Regions from separate parts of the Homo sapiens genome. Here region 2 is linked to region 1. The links come from fine-mapping of genetic effects on gene expression. A gene starts in region 1. The other region holds a variant in brackets. All regions are shown on one strand. Distances are from middle to middle. Region 1 holds the start of PLCH1 (phospholipase C eta 1). Region 2 overlaps PLCH1 (phospholipase C eta 1).

The links.
Region 2: its variant is fine-mapped to the expression of PLCH1 in whole blood (INTERVAL, PIP above 0.99).

What each region holds. Positions count from the first base shown.
Region 1 is chr3:155,741,589-155,749,924 of GRCh38, forward strand. It overlaps PLCH1 (phospholipase C eta 1), which reads right to left and starts at 3,483. Exons shown (of 23, transcript NM_014996.4): 1 at 3,252-3,483. RefSeq lists enhancers at 2,720-3,341, 3,236-3,445.
Region 2 is chr3:155,554,743-155,563,078 of GRCh38, forward strand. All of the region lies in intron 8 of PLCH1 (phospholipase C eta 1), which reads right to left. Among named protein-coding and RNA genes, the nearest start is that of PLCH1-AS2, 73 kb to the left of the region's middle. The variant A/C (reference allele first, on the strand shown) is at 4,326.

The DNA of each region.
Region 1 (8,336 bases):
CACTAAAAATGTCTAGAAATTATTCCATCTCAAAAGTTAAATGTTTAAATACTCTATTGTATTCCTTTTATCCTTTTATCATAATTTTATATCCTCTTTTTTTTTTTTTTTTTTTTGTTCAGGGAAAAAATAGTTATGATCCTTCAGGCATGCAGACCAACATTCTTAGAAGGAAGCTGCAGAAGGTTCATTATGTCATGAAACACAGAGCCAGAACAAAGGATTACTGAATCACTCACCTTATCTTCATCTAAGAAACCTGAGAATTACAAGGTTTCTGTTTCTTCTAAACTCTGTGCTGCACTTGCCAAGACTACAAGTTTTAGAGTAGAGTTTGTACTTCAAAAATGTAAGCAAATAGGTGCACATAATGCTTCCTATCCTAGATGTACAGCCTTATCTAAATTACTCAGTTTCAGCATTTGTTTCTGAATCTGCAAGTCTGAGTGATTAGCACCAAATCAATCGTTCTCCTTAAGAGTACCAAAGGTAGTATCTTCACTCTGAACGTCTGAAGTGGTATTAGAATTATTTCAGGACTCACAGCTCTTAGTTCATTCAGAACAGAAATCTGGATTTATTCATCTTGCCTTATATATAATACGTTCTCAATAAACATTTGTTGACTAAGTGAATAAATTAAGTAAAAAACATTTCGTTAAGAATTTTCACAGTATTTTACATTATGGCACCCTAACAAGGAGCACTTTTATCATATTCTATGTTTATAATACTAGCCCTATATCTGAAAGACTGATTTTTAAAATAAATTTAATTGAAGTTGATGATGTGGGAAAATATATCAAACGGAAGCAATAACTTTAAACAGATTTTATTGCAAATCTGGTGCCACTATAAATCCTCGCTCTGCCCATCAACCTTCCCTCTCTTTGTCTCCTTCCCATTGCCTCTCCCCAGCCTCCCCCAGGTACTCCCAGTCTCATTATCCCATGATCTGTTAAAACTGCAGTTTACCTCCTGGAACCAGCAGAAACACATGTCACTGAGAATTAGGGAATTGGAGCCAGTTACAAGCCACCAAATAGGGTCACAAAGTATCTGAACCTGAAAATTAAGAGTTTTTCTATTTTGCTAAACATGAGAAAAGGGGAAAAACTCAGTTGGACTTATTTTTAAACATTTGAGCTAGATGGATTGCACAATGTTAAGAATTTATGACAAATGAGATGGGAGACAACTTTAACAGCATGTTACTCGCTAATCATTTGAAAAGTGGTATGTTTGATTTCATTTGCTGATGGTGGGAGGATATTATCTTAAAACATCTACCACAAATAAACACTTGCTATTCTTGAAAACAAATTGCTTGAAACTGGTATGTAGCGAGACAGTACTCACGTATTACTTCATCCAAGGTATTTTATGCCACACTTTATCCCAAGAAGAATAACTCCATTTTAAATTTGTATTAGCATTTATGTTAATTCTAACCAATGTTAAATAGCAACTAGGTACCAATCATGCTGCCAAATATTGATGCAGTTTAAGAAAAATAAGCAAGAAGCTACCGCTCCTTCTACATACCCCTTAAGATGTGTACTTTTGCCAAATGCTAGGCTGTATGTAAACAAACGGATTTTAAAAGAGGGGATAGGGCTGTCAAGATTCACAATTTTATGAAAATGAAAATGATTCTCATCTGCTGGGCGCGGTGGCTCACGCCTGTGATCCCCACACTTTGGGAGGCAGAGGTGGGTGGATCACCTGAGGTCAGGAGTTCCAGACCAGCCTGGCCAATATGGTGAAACCCCGTCTCTACTAAAAATACAAAAAATAGCTGGGCGTGGTGGCGGGAGCCTGTAATCCCAGATACTCGGGAGGCTGAGGCAAGAGAATAGCTTGAACCCAGGAGGCGGAGGTTGCAGTGAGCCGAGATCGCACCACTGCACTCCAGCCTGGGCGACAGAGCCAGACTCCGTCTCAAAAAAGAAAAAAAGAAAAAGAAAATGACCAGCTTGAGAAAACTGGCTTCTGTTAAGGCTTCTTGAAGCATTCTCTGCAGAAGACTTTAACCCCAAAGGTGACCAAAACGCTGAGGCAACTGAAAAAAACTACCGCCTCTTCTGGGAAATCCTTTGTTTCTTTTCATTGGCATTATACTCTGGTCCCTTTTGCAGAGCATCTCCTTGTCATAAACATGCCAATAAACAGGACATGGGTGCTGCTGGGTTGTACAAGCTCTGCTCTTCACCTGGGTTAGGAGGCACAGATTTGTTCTTGTAACGCTCGAGAACAATCACTTCACTGAATTTTCTAACTCCTTACCAGGAAGTAAATGTTTTATTCGTCTCCCCTTTTCGGGACAGAGGGGGATTTCAATTGCTGCCCTAATAACTAATCTCTCACCATTTTCTTCTGTCCGTGATCAAAACGGTAACAAGGGAAGGGAAAAGTTGGGTTTTTTTTTTTAATTTAGTTGGTTATTGCTTTAATGCTGAACTCTCAACGTCAAAATGTGATCACAAATTGATTCGCAGAAGGAAACAAATAGAAAAAGCCTCGGGAAGGAGGGGAGAGGGCGTCGCAGACGCTCAACAGGGAACTGGGTTTAGGGGCTCGCGGGGTGGCGTCTCGGACCCGCAGCTCAGTCGCCAAGGAAACGCCGCGCAGGCGCAGAGCGTGCCGCCGCGGGGCCGGGGTTTGCCTCCACCACCCCGCGCCGCTCGGGCGCTCTTGGTTCTTCCCAGGAAAGGGCAATGGAGTATATCCTCCTCGCGCTGAGCACACCTAGTCTCTAAGAGGTCCTGAGCAGGGTCACCGGGCGCAGGAAAAGCTGTGAGACTCCCCAAGTGTAACGGACGCTGCACTCCCCTTGCTGGGAAACGCGGACCTGCTCTCCTGGCGGCGTCTGGCGGTCAGAGAGAGGGTCCCGGGACCCCGCGTGAGGGTGAAGCATCCTGCAGCGAGGCTGGACCTTCCACCGGGCGAAACGCCACCCACCACCACCGCAAGGGACCCGAGAGTTACATTATTTCGCGGACACACACACCCACCCTCATCCTTCTGAATTATGGGACCCTGAAGAGCGGCCGTGGCCAGTTCCCCGCACGGGGCCTTAGGGGATCCCCACGCACAGCACTCACAGTCCTAAACAGGCGTGTGCCGGCTGTGGCTGCCGAGAAAGGAACTTGGGCCACCTGCTCACTCGCTCATCGGACTGGCGTACCAGTTCTCTTTTTCCTGCACACCCCCTTCTCTCCTGGGCCCCTTCTTCCCCCGAAAGCACTGACCTCCTCAGCTTTGAGTGTTCAGTAGCTGAAGGACTCCTCGGAGTCCGTGGCACAAGGAGCCACCTCCGAAGTGCTGGGGTGATGAGTTATTGGCCCCTGTGACTCCAACTCCAAACCCCTGCCAAGGGCCAGAAAAGCCCCCCTAGAAGAGCACTTCTCCCCACTAGCCAGCAGAAGCCCCAGACGAGCGGGGAAGAGCAGGGCGCCGCCGCCACAACCTGCTTTCTCATTCAAATCCTCACGCTCACACAGGAGCCCCCCTCCCTCTCGGCCCCGCAGCTTCCGAGGAAATCAGGAACTGGAGTTGCGGAGAGCGGACTGGAGCGCCTGCTGCCTCCTCTGGCCCGGGCGGGATGGGTGTACGGAACCCTAGGGCTGCACGTGGAACCCCAAGGCTGCACCTGGAACCCTTGGCTTACACTCTCCTGCGGGGCTCCCCGCTTGGCAAGGGCCAGAAGCACTGGGAATGAAGTACTTTTACTCCCCCGCAAGTTTCAAAAGTTTCGAAACCCAGGGTAACCCCTCGGGGCTGTAGCCAGAGGGCCTCGGTGGTGGGGGGTAAAGGAGTTGGAGAAACAAAGTTGGAAGTGAAGGGCGCAGGGAATGGGAACTGCGTGCAACTTGCACCAAAGTGAAAAGTGTTCTCAAACGTCCGTCTTACCTCCTTTAAAAAAAAAAAATTTCTAAGAATATAGCATCTGTCGATGCCGCAAATTAAAGAGATCTACTCTGAGTGAATGGGAACTGCGTGCAACTTGCACCAAAGTAAAAAGTGTTCTCAAACGCCCGTCTTACCTCCTTTAAAAAAAAAAAATTTCTAAGAATATAGCATCTGTCGATGCCGCAAATTAAAGAGATCTACTCTGAGTGAAGTGCAACTAAAATTGAGAGCGTGTAAATGGTAACACTTTGCTTTTATTTACCCCCAGTCTCTTCATTTGGAAATGCTACTCCTTGGCATTAACAGGCCACTTATTCACTTAGATCCGTTTAGTGGCTGGTTGACTCAAGCGGGCAACCTGCCGGGAGTAAGAAGGCGGCGGTGGCAGAGGAAAGCTTGCACGAAGCAGGCACTCAAGTGTTGATGAAACGATGAAATCTACTGAATGCACTGAAAGGATGAGTGACCAGCTTGGGGCGGATGCTGGAACCGCCGCTGGCCTAGACGGCCGCGGTGTGATCCGGCTTCTGGATTCCAGGATTTACATTTATCAGCCTTCATTCAACCTGCCCTATTGTTAGTTCAAAGCCTGGCTGGGAAGGAGTGGGGACGCAGCTCTTCACTCACCTTTCAGTTTAAAATAATCCTCCAATAAGAATGTCCTAGGAAAGCTGGCAGCATGGGGTTGGCAGGGATTTTCTGGGCTTAGTGACAACATAAACTAAAGTCATTTTCTTTTTTCATGCGTGAATTTGCCCAGGAAGTTACAAACGAGTAAGTTACAAATGAGTGCCTGAGATTGGAGCTCAGGGCCTTGGCTGCCTGTTCTCTTTGACAGACAGTGTGGAGGGTGGTAGCACTGTGACCTCTCAGCGCAAGATCTAGGGTTTCACCTTTTCATCCCACTTAGCCGATACCATAGAAACAACCCATTTGTATTATTCAATTCAACAGAGGCAATTACAATGTCACAGCAAAGCACCATGGGCAAGAAGAAACTTTGTCCTGAAAACAATCCTAGACTCTCAGAAAAAAGAAAAAAGCCACCAGAATACCCACTTGAATTTCTTCCTGCCAATAGTACCAGGAAGAAATCAATTTGGAAAAAATGTAGGTAAGGTCCTTTGCCTCTATAGAAAGAAACCTCCCCAAATTTACTTGTTTTTGTTTTTGTTTTTTTGCATGCCCATACACAAGCCTCAATTTATAAGAAATTAAGTCATTAACCCTCTGCCTCCAAACTGCTTTATATTTTGTAAACAAGCTTGTTGGAGATTTGTTTTGCTGGTAACCTCCATGGTGAATAGAAAAGCCAAAAAAAAAAAAAAAAAAAAAAAAACCACCAAGATAATCCCTCAACAGCAGCAGTTCACCCCCTAACCTCCGGTGTTTGTCTTTCTTGAGTCTGAAAAAATGCAGATGCACATGTTGAAATAAACTCAGACACAAAGTTCATAATAAGAGCACTTGTTTGCTATGCATTCTTTATTTTGATAGTTTTAATCAACTCCCATAATTTTGTAAACTTTTAAATTTTTAAATTGTGTGATATTTCAAACCTACCAAAAACAGGATATATACCATGTAATACTCCTGCTCCCCCCAGCCCTTCTTTTTTAAATAAAGCATTACAGATATAGCTAAACCCCAACTCCTGACTCGTTACCCCCACCCCTTCCCAAAGGTAATAATTCTGAAGTTGGTATGAATCATAATTATGCATGTTCTTAAATGTTTAGGACATTTATACATCCATAATCTTTTAATGTAGCTTTTCTCTCCAAGTCGTTTTAACATTATTTATCTGAGAAAAATCACTAAAACAATTAATTAATTAATTGGAGAAAATCACTAAAAACAAGAAAATGTGTTACATTGCTAAGTTTTTAGAAGCAGGACAGAACTATTTTTCCTGCTTGTGACAATCAGAGTATGGAATAATAACAAAGGGATTAGACAGTGGGTAATAAGCAGCCTCTCTAGGTTACACAAACTCTTCCATGGTTACCAAAGAATAAATAGAAAAACAAAACAAATAATACCCTCCTCTTTCACTGGTTAAAGGGGAACTGGAGAAAATGAGATCTTCATTAAAACTTCTTTGGGCAGGTAAGACAAACATCCTACATGGTAGTAAAGTACCTTTTCTAGAGGATCTCTTGGTCATGCAAGCTATGATCTTTTAGTAAGGATTTACCACTTTTCCAAGTATAAAGAACTCCTGCTGGTAGCTCAATACAAGGTTGAAATCCGCCTGGCTGAAAAGTCTGGGGTTGAATTAGCCCTGCCTCTTCAAGCACAGGGACATCCATCTGTACAGTAGTTACAAAAATCTTTTGCTGTGATTCTTTGACTTAATGTCCTCCCAGCATTAAAAGTGCTAAGAAAGCATCAATTTTTCTTAAATGCCATTGAATGGTGAAAGGCATCCTTCCCAACCCCCACCCTCTTCATTTCCTAAGCGATGACTCTCATTAATTATACTGGCACACCACTGCCCAGCCTCCCTTCTAAATAGCTGCCAGATTTCTACATATCATCTCTGCCTTGATACAGAATGTGCACTGACACCAGGATCACAGAAAATCCTGTAAGAGGTGCCTGATACACAGTAAAATGATTGATGTGCCTTGTGGTGAGCCTGCTGTGCTGCGTATCGTAGGGGGTTTCTTAGAAAACTGCACTGGGAATTTCTGTGTTGGAAAAAGATTTTTCTAGCTGTGCAAAAATTGTGCTTCCAGTTGCAAAAAGAGCCATTTATTTAAGGTGTTCAAATTTAAACAGCAACCATCTTGAGTTATATCCACGAGCAAGAGAGGAAAGGAGATAAATGTTCCCTATTTTAATCAATGCACCAAGTTAAGAAAACCATTGACCAAAAAAGCGTATCAAGGAAGAGGCACTCCTCTTTCAACACATATTTCTTTAGTACTTGCCATGTACCAGGCACTGCTCTAGGTGGTAAGCCTTAGCTGGAATATAGATAGCACTCCTGAAGTAGAGCGTAGTACCTGTCTTTATGGCCCTACTCTACAAATTGGTCACGGCTTTTAGGTACAAATAACAAAACCCCTTATCAAACCAGCTTGAGTAAAAAAAGCTGATGTATTGACTCCCACTTTAAGATAGGGGGAAGGATAAGGACTTCAGAAACGGTGGGAGTCTAGCAATTCAGAATCAGCATTTCTCTTGTTAAAGAAAAAATTAGTCAGTGTTAAAGCATGGTAAGGAAGGCTTTATCCAGCACGATCGAAATCGGCACAGGGACTACTGCAAGGAGCTCATGCAGAATACAGCATAGGCAGCTTGGAATTTATAGACAAAGAACAGATGGGGTTGCTGGATGAAAAATCACTAAGAGGAAACATCAGGAATATGAGGAACTCTAGCTAACCCGACATAACTGGATTCTTGCTGAACACAGGCCAGGGAGATCAGACATGACCTGGGCAATAGTGGAGGATGAGGGATCTGATCAGATATTGAGAATGATCAGATATGGAGAGTGGGGGTTCTTGCTAAACTGACTTGGCAGAACTCTTTTCTAAAACTGAGTTTTACAAGAAAACGCACATATGGGCCCAGGAGAAGGCTCAGAAGCATGACTAATGTTTGTTTGGCCAAGCAAGGAATTTTTGTCACTCTCACACTTTCACCTTTGCTCCTACTATTTCCCTGTCTCTGCTTTTCTCAGTGTTTTGATCCTATTCTCTCCTATTCCATATGAGCTTTCTGTACAAGCTGGGGGTGGGGAGAGCATGACTAGAGACAGCTCCAGGTTTCAATCGTCTCAGCTAGAGAGGCCTTTTTGCTTTTACCATCTGTAAATAAGATGGTAGGAAAGGATTCGAACTGACCTGACTTAGGTCATGTGTCCATCCATAGGTCAATTACTGTGGACAACAATAAGTAGAGTATATGTGTGGCCAGATCCTGATTATACACACACCCTTATGGCCAGGAAGGCGGGGTATTATAAGTAGCAGCCCATCAGAACTGCTTGGAACCAGGGAGGATTTGTTCCCAAGATGAAAGGGGCTGGTCCTACCAAGTGAAGGCAGGAAGAGATTCTGGCAAATAAAAAGAATAGATATGGGCTGGGCACGGTGGCTCACACCTGTAATACCAGCACTCTGGGAGGCTGAGGCGGGTGGATCATGAGGTCAGGAGTTCGAGACCAGCCTGGCTAATATGGTAAAACCCCGTCTCTACTAAAAATACAAAAATTAGCCAAGCATGGTGGCAGGCACCTGTAATCCCAGCTACTCGGGAGGCTGTGGCAGAGAATTGCTTGAACCCGGGAGGCAGAGGTTGCAGTGAGCCAAGATCGCGCCACTGCACTCCAGCCTGGGTGACAGAGCGAGACTCCGTCTCAAAAAAAAAAAAAAGAATAGATGTTCCCTAGGCTGCCCTCTCTTAAATCT
Region 2 (8,336 bases), 190 kb before region 1:
AGATTTATGTGAATTTGGGCAAATAACTTAATCATTTGAAGACTTGTTTTCCCCATCTAGAAAAGGAGAGTAATAGCACTTACATCATAAATTTGAGTGACAGTTAAATATATGTAAAGTAGCTTGTAACACTGCATGGCATATAGTAACTATGATTGTTATTGATACTATTAATATTGCTCTCTACCCACACAATCTCATTAGCTCTCAGCTGGAGAAAGACAGTAGGTTTTTCACCATGCCCCTCTGACTAAGAATTTGCTTTCTCTTGTTTTTATATTTTGCCCCCAGGCTAATTCCTCAAAACACTACTTTCACCTCATTGCTCCTTTGCTCAAAAGCCTACTTGGTGCATAGCACAGCATCCAACACAGAGAAGTAAGTAGTCTGTAAATATATGCTAAATGGATTAATAAATATCTTACCTCATACAATAGCTCTTGCGTGCTTACCTCCAACGCCCCTGTCTCTTGTGCTAGAGCCTGGCTAATCATTCACTAACCCTGTTTCTTCTTTTATCGAGGGAACACAGCTGGACTCTATTTCCTAGCCTTCCTTTGCAGGAGGATGTGGCCAGTGAAATGTGGGCAGAAAGTATGTGCACCACTTCCAGGTATGGTTGACAGAAACCTGCTGCCTTACATAATCATTCGTCTTCTTTCCTCTTCTGCTGTGACTTTAGAAGTGGTGAAGATGGCACAGCCACAAGATGGAAAAAGACAAAACTGCTTGAGAGATTCACCCACTAGGAACACCTATTTTGAACTTGACATAATCAAGAAATAAACTTCAGTTGTTTTAAGGCACAGGAAATTTGAAGTTTTATTGTTAAAAGGACAATGTTGCCTTAATTACCATGCTAGCTCCTGTCTGACAATTCAATCTTACTTTCTCCTACACCCAAGCTCACAGGCTTGTTCTTCTGGTTAGGCAAATTTTCTCACACACATTCCCACCTCCATGTGTCTTTTCTTCTTTCTTTAAAGTCAACTGACATATCCCCTTCTCATTTTGCTTACCTAAATCCTAATCAAGGCAAAACTAGGATCCCCCACAGAACCTCGCTAGCCCACAGGATCTCTCTTTTCCTTATGGCAAGAGGTCATCATCTCAAACACCACCAAAAGCCTAGCAGTTAATATAAATAAGTGCAGCGGCTCAATGGGAAATGTGTGCCTGAATGAGATAACTACTTACTGTTAATCATTACTAAGTAGGAATGAGAACCTTGGTTGCCAGAACTTCTGAGGAAACTAAAATGTCTAGATTTTATTGCTGTGAATTTTCCCAATTTTTAAATACTGGCAATTAATCCATTTTTAAAACTACAATATGGGTCAAACATAAACATTTCTGCAAGCTGAATTTGCATAATGGAATGCTGATTGAAAGTCTGCCTTTAGAGTTCGAGACCGGCCTGGCCAACATGGTGAAACCCCTTCTCCGCTAAAAATACAAAAATTAGCTGTGTGTGGTGGCGGATGCCTGTAATCCCAGCTACTCAGGAGGCTGAGGCAGGAGAATCGCTTGAACCCGGGAGGTGGAGGATGCAGTGAGTCGAGCTCGTGACATTGCAACTCCAGCCTGGGCAACAAGAGTGAAACTCCGTCTCAAAATAAAAGAAACTCTGCCTTTAATTAGGACCACACAGTTGTGAACCACATATGTTCTCTATTTTAGTAGCACCTTCCCCTATATGTGTGTTTTGTGTATTACCCCAGGAGATATCTCTGTTTTTCTTTTAAAATATTCAAAATGCTCACCATAATTACAATGTGATTGTAATGGTTAATTTTTCATGTCAATGAGGCTTGGCTATGATGTTCAGTTATTTGGTCAAACACCAGTCTATATGTTCTGTGAAGATATTTTAAAAATAGGATTAACATTTAAATCAGTAGGCTTTGGGTAAAGCCGATTATGCTCCACAATGTGAGTGGGCCTCGCCCAGTCAGCTGAGAGCCTTAAGAGCAAAGACTGAGGTTACCCTTCAAGGATAAATTCTCAACACTGCAACACAGAAACTGCCTGAATTCCAGCCTGCTGGCCAGCTCTACAGATTTCAGATTTGCCAACACCCACAAGCATGAGAGTCAATTCCTTAAAAATCAGACAACGAATCTCAATCTCTTGCTTTCTCTACATATCTTATTGGTTCTGTTTCTCTGCAGAACCCCGACTAATACAGCTATCTATATTAATCCACTAAACACTGGCTGTTCAAATATCCCTATGGGAAAAAAATAGAAAAAATAAAAGAAGAAAAAACATTCACAGTTGATACCACAGGAATGCTAAAAACAATGTTTAAGGATAAAATGCTGTTAAGAAAACCAAAGGTTCTGAGATACTATCAGAGAGTGTCTACTATTCCTTGGGGCCTGCAAATGAGGTCATATGTATCAACAACATCTTCTCACAAGAGAAGCGTCATCCATATTTTTCCATGTACTTGACAGTCTTTAATTTGTCTCTGGAAATAATTATGGAAAAAACTTAACAGGTGTTTCAAATAATATATAATTTTAACAATTTTTACCCTGTTTTGTGGTCCCTTCTTGGAGAAGAAAGAGCATAACAGGATTCTTCATAAAGGAACTAATAGCTTTTCCAAAAGAATGCAAAGGCGACAAAGCAATACCTTGCCCGACTTGCTTATGGTGTCTACATCAAAAATTAAAACTACACGAGTCATGAAAGAAGGCACTCTTTGGCTAGTATTTACAACATAGGCAGAATATTCATAACTGAGGATAGGAGGTTCTCCTAATGTTCAATTTTTATATCTAATTCCATCACTTGTCTGTGAGATGAAGATAACAACATTCCCAAATGGTACTGGCATCTTAATATGTGGCATTCGTGGCCAGGTTCAAATGGCAGTGAAGTTTCCTGTAAGTGCTAATGCTGTAAATGGGAATGTTGGCAAGGTAGAAATCCTCTGTCCAATTCCCCTGCTCATAAAAGAGCCGGGGCCCATTTTTCAATCAGGTTACACACTATGGAACCCCAAAAGCAAAGCAACTCCAACAAAGATTTAGCCATTCTGAAGGCCAAATAGCTAACATGACAGCTTTTCATAATGGAGCTTAAAGACGTTCCACCCTGATAGCACTCCCAGAGATAACTGGAGAAGTCATAAACCGATTACAACAGCAATGCAACATCAGTCCCATAATGAGAATGAAAATCCCCTGGACAGAACATCCATATTTATTAAGCAACTCAGGCTGAAAATCAAGCGAATAAAAGGCCATGTAAAAATGTTATCCATTTGATTTGCTGACAAGCCCACCTCACCAAAAAGACTTATTGCTCTTCCTCAAGACACTGTGTACATATCCTGACTAAGGACATTATTGCAGCTGAACTAATGGAGATGGAAAACATAACATTACCAAAATAGAAGCTTGAAAGTAGAGAGAACCTCCAGGTCACAATAGTGTGAAAATACTGTAGAATCATTCTTCTCCATCTCTCAAGTGCTACACTTAGCAAAAGCTGCTTCAGAAAACAGCTGTGGGACCTGAAATTTTCAACCCATGACCGGCTACATTCTATAAATTGTGTTCTTTAAATTCTAACTGCAGCTGTTTAAGAATAAAAATACCTTCATCTGGCCACATGGCAGATAAAATGCCACTAGGTATACAGCAGTACCCCTTTATCCTCGGGAGATAAATTCTAAGGCTCCCGGTAGATGCCTGAAACTGCAAAGTACTGAACCTTATACATACACCCTTGTTTTTTTCCTACATATACATACCTATAATAAAGTTTAGTTTATAGATTAGGTCAGTAAGATATTCACAATAACTAATAGTAAAACAGAACAATTATACTGCAATAAAAGTTATGTGAATGTGGTTTCTCTCTCAAGATATTTTACTGTATCACCTTTCCTCTTGTGGTGAAGAAGGGACAGAGTAGGACGGTGTGAGATTTCATCACACTACTTAGAATGGTACACAACTTAAAACTTATATGTTGTTTCTCTCTGGAATTTCTATTTAATATTTTCGGGGTGCAGCTGACCATGGCTAACTGAAACCATGGAAAATGAAACCGCAGATAAGAGGAGACTACTATACACACACTGGTGTCTCTGTGCCCAAGCTTCAAATGTGGACTAAGGTCTTCAAATCACAGGACTGACAGATATTGTTAGGAGGACCACAGAGATCATGTCACCAAATGCTAAGCCTTCAGGAACATCTAAATATTTAGGTGGTAGGCCTAATCACAAATGAAGCAAATTCCTCCTTTTAATGCCAACCTCTCCTCTATGTTGTGCTCCTCACTTTCTCTGGCCATCCTTATATGAC[A/C]TGACAGCCTCATTCAATTCCTTAGGGCTGGTCATGTCATTCAATGCTTGCTCCTCCAAAAACACACAGACTTTCTGGAGAACAGTGCAATTCAAGAGTCAGACCAACCTGAGTTCAAATCCCAGCTTCCAAGCTTCCTAACCTCGGGAACTTAAGCCATTTATTTAACTATGAGTTGAATCTCTTAAGAAGAGATTATTCCCTCTTTCTTGGTGGTGTTATAAGAATTAAATGAGAATGCACGGAAAACACTTAGCCAGGACCTGGTCCACTAAAGTTGCTAAAATCATAGTAGGTCCTCTTTTCCTTCCTACAATACATTCAAATCCAAGGTGACAACCACTATTTCCAATAAGAAATAGGTCAAACACACAAAAACAAAATGAACAAACAAATACAAAGAAATAGGTCAAATGCAAAGCTGGCCAAGTCTCTGAGATAAATATAATTATTCTCCTCAAGAAAAACATTCCAGAAATAGTAGTTCAACTTCTATTGTCCAGTTATAGATTATTCTAATAATAAGAACTTTAAGCCAAATACTAGGGAAAGAATTTACTGATGCAAGCTGGTGAGGAAGATATTTGGGAGCATATAAAAAATTACATATCCTTCAAAATTATACCATAGCTGTGCATAGCCTCGTTTGTACAAGTATCTGGAGAAGGTAACCTTTTGGACATACAGAGCCAAGTAGCTTCTTTATATTACAGCAGCGACTGGAAAACAGGAAGTAAGAAGGTACAAGAGAAGGCTCTTGTTCAATGTCATCTACTGCACACAATTTCCAAAAGCTCCCATTTTAGAATTAAAAGACTACTGGAAAAGCAACAACTAAAAATCATGTGTACTTTATCATGAATTATCTTAATCAGATAACTTTCCTTCTTAATACCCCAAACAAAGCTGGAGGTTTAGAAGTTTTGAGTCGGTATAAGGAATTAATGACAGAAACATGGTTAGGCTTGGGTAGGATACTGATTTTGGACAGGTAAACCAAAAAGAGAAGCCTAGGTATCTGAAAGAACTGAAAAGCAAAAGAAATAGAGCAGAAGAGACAGAATTAACAAAGTTGTAAAATTGTCTAGAGTTGACTGTCACTTCATGGAGTCACTAAAAGTCATTTTCTGTACTTGAACCTCCAAGAAAATGTCACTATTTACAATGATAGGCAACCATCAGTGTGAATCCAATGAGGCTGTGTGCTCAGGGCATCTCTATGCATGCCAGACATGAAAACTTGTTGAGTGCTAAGCAAACAAAGGGCTGAATAATGGCTGAGAGCAGAATGTCACCTTGAGACATCTTACTGCTTGAAAGGATTTTCTTCCTCTTAATATTTTATAGCATCTTCATTATTCAGTTGTTTAAGCTACTCAATTGTTAATCACTATTGCTGGTATGTACTCTCTGCAACTATTGCAAAAATACTATTGAACGACTAAATTTACAGAGCATTCAATTTGTAGTCATCCTAATGTTTCTGTATGCAGGTAGTTTTTAATACCTGCCCATTTTTTAAGCATGTTGATTTACCTTAATAACATTACTGTCACTTTTGTAGCAGAAAATTCAAGCTAGAAACTATCTGACAAAGAAAGGCCCTTCCAGTTAAGCAGTCTTATCTCATTGTCCTACTGCTTTATTCATTGCCCTGCACTTTCCACCATGCCTAGGAAAACCAGTCATCCCACTGCTGACTCCCAGCACATTCCCCACCAAAATCAAAAGACAATTCCCTGTGACTCATGGCATCTCCATTCAATCATAAACCAACTCCCTTTTATCTTCAGACTCCCTTTGGAATTCTCCTCAACCTCCTTACCCTGGCTAAGCACCAGCTTACCTTCGAGGGCACTACTTCCTTTCTCCAAGGATGCTCTTTTGTATAAATCACAGAAGATTTAGATATAAACCAAAAGGCATTATCTATGCCTTTACTGCTACTTTTAAATGATTGTTCTTCTACACTCATTAAAAAATCTCTCCTCTTTTGAAGCTTATTCTATCCAGCTATACCTTTCTGGCATCTTCTAATCACCTTTTCTTTTTTTTTTAATTATTATTTCTTATTATTATTATACTTTAAGTTTTAGGGTACATGTGCACATTGTGCAGGTTAGTTACATATGTATACATGTGCCATGCTGGTGCGCTGCACCCACTAACTCATCATCTAGCATTAGGTATATCTCCCAGTGCTATCCCTCCCCCCCTCCCCCCACCCCACAACAGTCCCCAGAGTGTGATGTTCCCCTTCCTGTGTCCATGTGCTCTCATTGTTCAATTCCCACCTATGAGTGAGAATATGCGGAGTTTGGTTTTTTGTTCTTGCGATAGTTTCCTGAGAATGATGATTTCCAATTTCATCCATGTCCCTACAAAGGACATGAACTCATCATTTTTTATGGCTGCATAGTATTCCATGGTGTATATGTGCCACATTTTCTTAATCCAGTCTATCATTGTTGGACATTTGGGTTGGTTCCAAGCCTTTGCTATTGTGAATAATGCCGCAATAAACATACGTGTGCATGTGTCTTTATAGCAGCATGATTTATAGTCCTTTGGGCATATACCCAGTAATGGGATGGCTGGGTCAAATGGTATTTCTAGTTCTAGATCCCTGAGGAATCGCCACACTGACTTCCACAATGGTTGAACTAGTTTACAGTCCCACCAACAGTGTAAAAGTGTTCCTATTTCTCCACATCCTCTCCAGTACTTTTTTTTTGATGGAATCTCATTCTGTTGCCCAGGCTGGAGTGCAAAGGCATGATCTCGGCTCACTGCAACCTCTGCCTCCTGGGTTCAAGTGATTCTCCTGCCTCAGCCTCCTGAGCAGCTGGGACTACAGGTGCATGCCACCATGCCCGGATAATTCTTGCAGTTTTAGTAGAGATGCGGTTTCACCATGTTGGCCAGGCTGGTCTCAAACTCCTGACCTCAAGCCTCAGCCTGTCTCAGCCTCCTAAAGTGCTGGGATTACAGGCATGAGCCACTGCGCCTGGCCACATTGTTTTTATACTTAAGTGTCTGGTTTATAGTTTTAATCTCCAATCTGCTCCTGTCTGCATACTTTGTAAATTAAAACACCATGTAGCCATCTATTTAATCCCTTAGCACTGACCTCCTCCAGGCCAATAATCCCTTGCTTCACTCTGTTTCCATGATGCTCACCCATGACACAATCTGGAAATTGTCACCTGTGACTAAATCCCATTGCAATGACAGCTCTGTTCTCATTTTCTTAAAGTGTGATGACAACTTTCCACATTTTTCTATTTATTTGAGTCTTCTAGTCTCTTAATCTTATTTTATGGCCCCCTATCCACTTCGCTTCCTTTCCTAGAACCATGGAGCCCCTGTCAGTTACTTATAAGAGCTCTCACCAATACCTTGAAGATATTTAATATGATCTAGAAATCCCGAGACTTGGATCAATTCCATAATCTGTCTTCACTACTTCTCTAAGCAGATGAGTACTGCTGGGGATGGGATCAAAGGGAGTCTAAGCATCCAGATTTTGAATCAGTAAAGACTGTTTTTGAAATCAGCTTGGGCTTCCCTGACTTACCTTGTCAATTCCTTTCCCATTCTCTGATGACTTCTTTAACAATTTGCTGATTTTAAGCCCTGTGGCCAATCTCCACTCACTTTATACTGAGTGGATGATGTTCTCTCCTACTTCTCTGAGAAAACAGGCATGCGCCCTTTCAAAAATCTCTTGTCCCCTTTATTCCACCTGAAAACAAACCTATATTATTTCCCCCACTTCCAAGTCTCAAAGTTGCCCCCCAGCCTATATCATCAAACATTTGGATGCAGAAAAATGCCCAGTCACCAATCGACAGCAGGTAACCAACTGCCCACTAACATATCACCAACCTACATAGCAAAGGCCACCAACAATTCCCTGCTGTCAAATACAACTAAATTGGATACTTAGTTTTATTTTATTTTTCTGTTCCCTGTGGCATTTCTGGCTATTCCTTTCTAACCCTTTCATCC